Linked DNA regions of Homo sapiens: region 1 is linked to region 2. The links come from fine-mapping of genetic effects on plasma protein levels. A gene starts in region 2. The other region holds a variant in brackets. All regions are shown on one strand. Distances are between the middles of the regions. Region 1 overlaps NISCH (nischarin). Region 2 holds the start of NISCH (nischarin).

The links. PIP is the posterior inclusion probability: the model's chance that the variant is causal. Sun 2018 read protein levels with aptamers (SomaScan).
Region 1: its variant is fine-mapped to the plasma level of the NISCH protein (Sun 2018, PIP 0.95). The variant lies in the coding sequence of NISCH. If it changes the protein, the assay may bind it differently, which can mimic a change of level.

What each region holds. Positions count from the first base shown.
Region 1 is chr3:52,475,029-52,477,930 of GRCh38, forward strand. NISCH (nischarin) reads left to right here. Exons shown (of 21, transcript NM_007184.4): 8 at 1,419-1,571; 9 at 2,546-2,614. Among named protein-coding and RNA genes, the nearest start is that of STAB1, 19 kb to the right of the region's middle. The variant G/A (reference allele first, on the strand shown) is at 1,548.
Region 2 is chr3:52,454,039-52,456,940 of GRCh38, forward strand. NISCH (nischarin) reads left to right here and starts at 1,566. Exons shown (of 21, transcript NM_007184.4): 1 at 1,566-1,696. The coding sequence starts at 1,604. TNNC1 (troponin C1, slow skeletal and cardiac type) reads right to left here and starts at 3. Exons shown (of 6, transcript NM_003280.3): 1 at 1-3. RefSeq lists a silencer at 1,491-1,720 and an enhancer at 2,545-2,902.

The sequences.
Region 1 (2,902 bases), 21 kb after region 2:
GTGGCTAATATTATGACTTAAGGTTCCTGATCAAGACTTAGGTTTGGGCCAGGTGTGGTGGCTCATGCCTGTAATCCCGGCATTTTGGGAGGCCAAGGCAGGAGGATTCCTTGAGCCTAGGAGTTGGAGACCAACCTGGGCAACATAGGGAGACCTTGTCTCTTAAAAAAAAAAAAAAAAAATTGGATTTGGTGAAAAATTTTCCTCTTGAGGCTTGCAGAGAGTGTGTTGGGCCACCTGGTCCCTCTCCGAGCACTTCTCACTGTCTTGCTGAAGGAGCCCAGGGCGACCCATTGTGAGAAGAAAGGTCTTGTCAAAACAAATAGGCCTGCCTTTCTCCATTTTGATGGTCTCTGGGCTTTGTGCTACTCCCCTTATCTTAGCATTGTCTGACTTTATTCCTGTGAAATAATGGTTTTAAAGGCCTGGTGTCCACAGTGAGGACCACATCATCAGCTTGGAAAGCACAGCTGCCTGGAAACTGAATTCTCACCTTCAGCCTCTGAGAAGCTAGAAAAGACGGTTGGCTGGCCAGTAGCAGTGGCTTGCACCTATAATCCCAGCACTTTGGGAGGCCAAGGCAGGAGGATCACTTGAGCCCAGGAGTTTGAGACCAGTCTGGGCTATGTAGGGAGACCTCGTTTCTACAGAAAAAAATTTTTTAATTAGCTGGGCAAGGTGGTGTACGCCTGTAGTCCCAGCTACTCAAGAGGCTGAGATGGGAGGATTTGCTTGTGCCTGCGAGTTTGAGGCTGCAGTGAGCCATGATGGCGCCACTGTACTCCAGCCTGGGTGACAGAGTGAGACTGTGTCTCAAAGAAAAAACGGCTAGGCGCTGTGGCTCACGTCTGTAATCCCAGCACTTTGGGAGGCTGAGGTGGGTGGATCACCTGAAGTCAGGAGTTTGAGACCAGCCTTGCCAACATGGTGAAGCCCCCATCTCTATTAAAAATGCAAAAATTAGCCAGGCATGGTGGTACACACCTCTAGTCCCAGCTACTGGGGAGGCTAAGACAGAAGGATGGCTTGAGCCTGCGAGGCAGAGGTGGCAGTGAACTGAGATTGCGCCACTGCACTCCAGCCTGGGTGACAGAGCGAGACTCCATCTCAAAAAAGAGAAAAGGCTAGAAAAGGCATCACCAGGTCACCAGGGCAAAGGCCCTTTGGGCTTGAAAAGCATTGCTCCTAAAGCAGGGCCAGGACTTAATTCTAAGTGGCTGTTATGTGGTAAATTGTTCAGCTTTGAACGATTTCACAATCGTTTAAAGACATAGGAACCAAAGGCATGCTTTAATGCAAGTTTACTTCCACATGCTAAATATGCTCCAGCCCTTCCTTAAATTCTGCAACGACTGTGTTCCCAGTGAGTGTTGCGTGAGGGCCCGAGTGTGGTGCTCCACACAGATGTTTTTATGCAGGAAGTCCTTGTTCCTGAAGCCTCAGAATTTGATGAGTGGGAGCCTGAAGGCACAACCCTAGAAGGCCCTGTGACTGCCGTCATCCCCACTTGGCAGGCATTGACCACGCTTGACCTGAGCCACAACAGC[G/A]TCTCCGAGATCGACGAGTCTGTGGTATGCTCTCAGCAGCAGGTGCCAGGGGTTTCTCTGGCCCCACCAAACCCTGAGTTTGAGTATTTAACTCAGCTTTTTTAGGAAGGACCACGGAAAACCTATATCTAGTGCTCTGTGCATTGCCTGCCATTTTAAGTTAATTACAAAATGGGGGCTGGGCGTGGTGGGTCACACCTGTAATCCCAGCACTTTGGGAGGCCGAGGCGGGAGGATCACTTGAGGTCAGGAGTTCGAGACCAGCCTGACCAATGTGGTGAAACCCCATCTCTACTAAAAATACAAAAATTAGCTGGGTGTGGTGGTGCACACCTGTAATCCCAGCTACTTTGGGAGGCTTAGGCAGGAGAATCGCTTGAACCCGGGAGGCGGATGTTGCAGTGAGCTGAGATAGGGCCACTGCATTCCAGCCTGGGCGACAGAGTGAGACTCCGTCTCAAAAGAAGAAAAAAAAATGGGATCATTTAAAATTGGTGAGGTAGTACTTAGAACCAAATAAAACATAATAATTTCATGTAAATTTGGTAAACTATAACACACTAAATGATGACATTTGCTCCAAAGAGTGGAGCAGAAAAATCACTCCTTAGATGACAGATGTGCCCATGAAAGAATGACACCCAGAGGGCATTTGGGCAGTAAGAGTGTCGTTCCCGTGTTTGCGCTGCTCAGGGAGTGTGGGCAGGGTTGAAGAAGAACAGACTCTCTTCTCTGTCTGGGACCTTGCTGTGTGTCATTTTCACAAGCCAAGTGTTCCATGAAAACTGAGTAGTGCCCAGCACTGGGGGCCCTGTGTGTGCCTTTGGATGTGCTACTGGCTGGGCAGCGGGAGATGTCCCACCAGTGGTCCTGCAGGGACGGCCCGTGGGAGTCCATGGTCGGGAGGAAGCGTCCTGGGGTGCCCGTCCACTGTGTCGGGGACCGTGTTTGGGGTCCAGCCCCCTACAGTAACATCGGGTGTTCTTTTCTTTCACAAGAAACTGATCCCAAAGATTGAGTTCCTGGACCTGAGTCACAATGGATTGCTGGTTGTGGACAATCTGCAGGTAGTGCCTTTGGAGACCAGTGCTGCCCGCACACACTCCCAAGGCCCCGCCCTGAGATTTCAGGAGACTGACGCAGCCTTGGGAATTGGCCAGGGGTTGTAAGGGCAGGGGTTGCTGTCTTCGCTTTAGGATCCCAGCAATGCACTGAGTGATTGTTGCTCTAGTTCCAAAGAATTAGGAAGCATGAGTAAATACAAACCAGGCATGATGATGCACCTCCGTCCTGAAGGTGGACAGCCATGTTTTCAACGCCCACCCCAACTGTCTGCAGGGGTGCCACTGTGCTGT
Region 2 (2,902 bases):
GCTGGGGTTGCCAGCCGGCCCTTGACTTAAATAGCCCTGCCCCGCTGCATTCCTGGCCCAGCCCAGCCCAGCCCAGCCCACCCCTGCGTGTAGTATCCTCCAGCCCCTCCTCTGGTCCCAGTGATCTCAGGCTGGCCTGAGTCCCCACGTCCTCTGCCCAGGGCAGGGAGCAGACGAACGGCTACAAGGACCAGGTTTCTTTCCCTCCTGTCCCCCACACTCCCCAAAGGGACTCTCTGAAAAGGTTTCTGGAATGAATGAAAACATAAGCCCAGTGCAGGACAGGAGCTACAAAGTCGTGGGCCCCAGGCAAGGTGCAACACAACAGCTCAGGCTCCCATCCAACCAGGTTGGCGGGTTGCCATGACCTCCACTTTCCAGATAAGGAAACTGAGGCTCTGGAGGAGTGGTGACTTGCCCAAGATCTGACTGACTTGGTAACCCCCGCCTTTAACTAAACCTCTCTGGAATGGGGGTGCAATGTGCAAGGAGAGGCTAGGAGTGCAGGGCCCTGCCAAGAGAAGCCTCGAATGCCAAGCTCATAGTAAGATGCTGTGGAACTGGTGAAGGAGGAAGTGACTGACCCACCTTAGGACAGGGTGGCCAGGAGCCCTTCTGCCAGAGGAGCCTGTCCCAGACCTCCCATCTGCCCAGGGAGAAGTACCCACTTCGGGCTTAAGTCAGCTGCTCTCAGTTATTCAACAGCACCCCTATAGATGCCCCATCTGTGGCAGGCTCTTTCCCTCCTCACCCTCCAATTAGGTTACCACCTCCCTCTTCTAGGTCTCATCTTTCCCCGGTTTAGGATTCAGCACTGTAGTTCCTGGGTCCAGATCAACCTGTCTCCCTCGTTTTGAACTTTGGCAGGCCACCCCGTGGGGTTCTTGTGCTCAGTGGCAGCACACACCCCTCCATCCACCTACACCTTCCTTCGTACAGAGTTCGTATCAAGTTTATCCCTCTTGATAAACACGCTCCCTGCCTCGAGCACTACTGCGTGCTGGGCCGCGCATCAATCAACCCACTCAGTTGTCCAGAAGCCCCACTGACAAGAGATCTCCGAATCTCAGAGAGGTTCAGAACTGGCCCAGAATCACTCTCGCCCTGCTCCGGCGGTAAGCACAGGTCCTATTTTCCCCTCCAACCTGCCTTGCCCTAAAGAGAAAGAGCCCAACAGCCAGGTGAGGCACTATTATGGCCTCCTTTATCAGGAGGAGTAAACTGAGGCCAGGAAGAGCAGTGACTTGCTTCGTGTGGCCTGGGAGACTCGGGACCTTCTGTCCCCTCTTCCCGAGGACCCAGGGGCGATGCCCAGAGCTGTCACCACCCGGGGTCTCAGTTTCTAGCAGGCTGTGCAGGGTACCGCCGGCGGCGCCACGCAGGTAGATTACGCAAGCGAGCACCTCGCACGCGCGCCCTGAGTGGCCCCTGTCAGTCACGCGCGGGGGCGGGGCGAGGGCGCAGGAAGAAGGCGGGGCCAAGATGGCGGCGCAGCGCGCGGCGGGGGCGACGGGCGGCGGGGGCCGGGGGGCGGTGGGACGTTGACCCCGCCCCCTGCTGCTGCTAGTCTGCGCCGGGCGGCGGTGGCGGCGGAGACCCGAACATGGCGACCGCGCGCACCTTCGGGCCCGAGCGGGAAGCCGAGCCGGCCAAGGAAGCGCGCGTCGTGGGCTCGGAGCTTGTGGACACTTATACGGTGTGTTGGGGGCGCGGGCACCCGAAGCGGGGGTGGTGGCTGGAACCGGGAGTCCGACTCGGGGGCTTGGGGAGGGGTCCGGGATCTGCAGCCCCGAGGAGCGGGTAGAAGGGTCTGCGATTGCGAGGAGGGGGCTGGGACGGGGGATCTAGGAAAGGGATCTGGGCCCCGCAGGTCCGGGAGAAGGGTTGCTCGGGGCCCGGGGAGGCGGTTTGGAAAAGGGTACGCGATCAGAAAGGGAGGCTCGGGTTGGGGGCGGCATCTGGGGATAAAGGGGGCTTGGGGAGGGGGGTGTCTAGATGAGGCGGAACCCCTCTAGATCCTCTAGGACTGGAGGGGCCCCGGCCTGGAAGACCGTTACAGGGGTCCAGGAGGAAGGCGATGGGGAGAGGGTCTCTGATGGATGGAATCAGGGAAAAGGGTCAGGCTTCGCAGGCCTTGAAGAAAGAGAAGGCGTCAGGACCCTGATCTGGGGAGCCTGAGGTGGTGGTTGAGATTTTCTCTGAGAAGTGCAGGAGAGACCTGGGGAGCAGATGCCTTGGGGGTCGGGCGGAGACAAGACCGGAGGAGGGGTGGAGCCCATCTATGGAGAAATGGGGGTGGTCTCAGTGCTAAAGCGCAGGCCCTATAAGCCTTAGGAATCTTCGTGACTTTGGGCTGTGGGAGCGAGATGGGGCAACAAGCTGCCCACACACACTTCTAAGCTATGGGGGAGACAGAGGACAAATAGCGGGTAGTTCCCGACTTTGACGGGGTTGGATGCCAGGCCTGTGAGCCTGGTGGGCTGCCTGGCAAAAACCGGCCCTGGACTAGGCATAGAGCACCTCCCTGCCTCCTCCCCTTTGTTCCCGCAGGGTAGGGAGTGGGTGGGGGCCTTGGGCCTGCCTGCACCTCCCCTCCCTGGCCCTCATCCTAACCTTCCGCTCTGAGGGCCATTCTTCTGGCTCTTTTCTCCTTTCCTGAAGGCAAGGGGAAGGAATCAGGCAGGATGGGAAGAGGAGAGGGGTGGATCTTGAAGCAACAGGCCAGCCTGGAGAAATGGCTGCTCCTCAGGGCTGGAGGAGGCTTCAGCTCCATGCTGCAGAGAGGAGGGGGAAACTAGGTGCAGGAGGCGGGTGAGGTCTCTAAGCTGATGGCTGACTGGCCATCAGCTATGGGCACATTCAGCCAGAGGGCCATCTTCAAAAAGCTCACCCTATTCTGGAC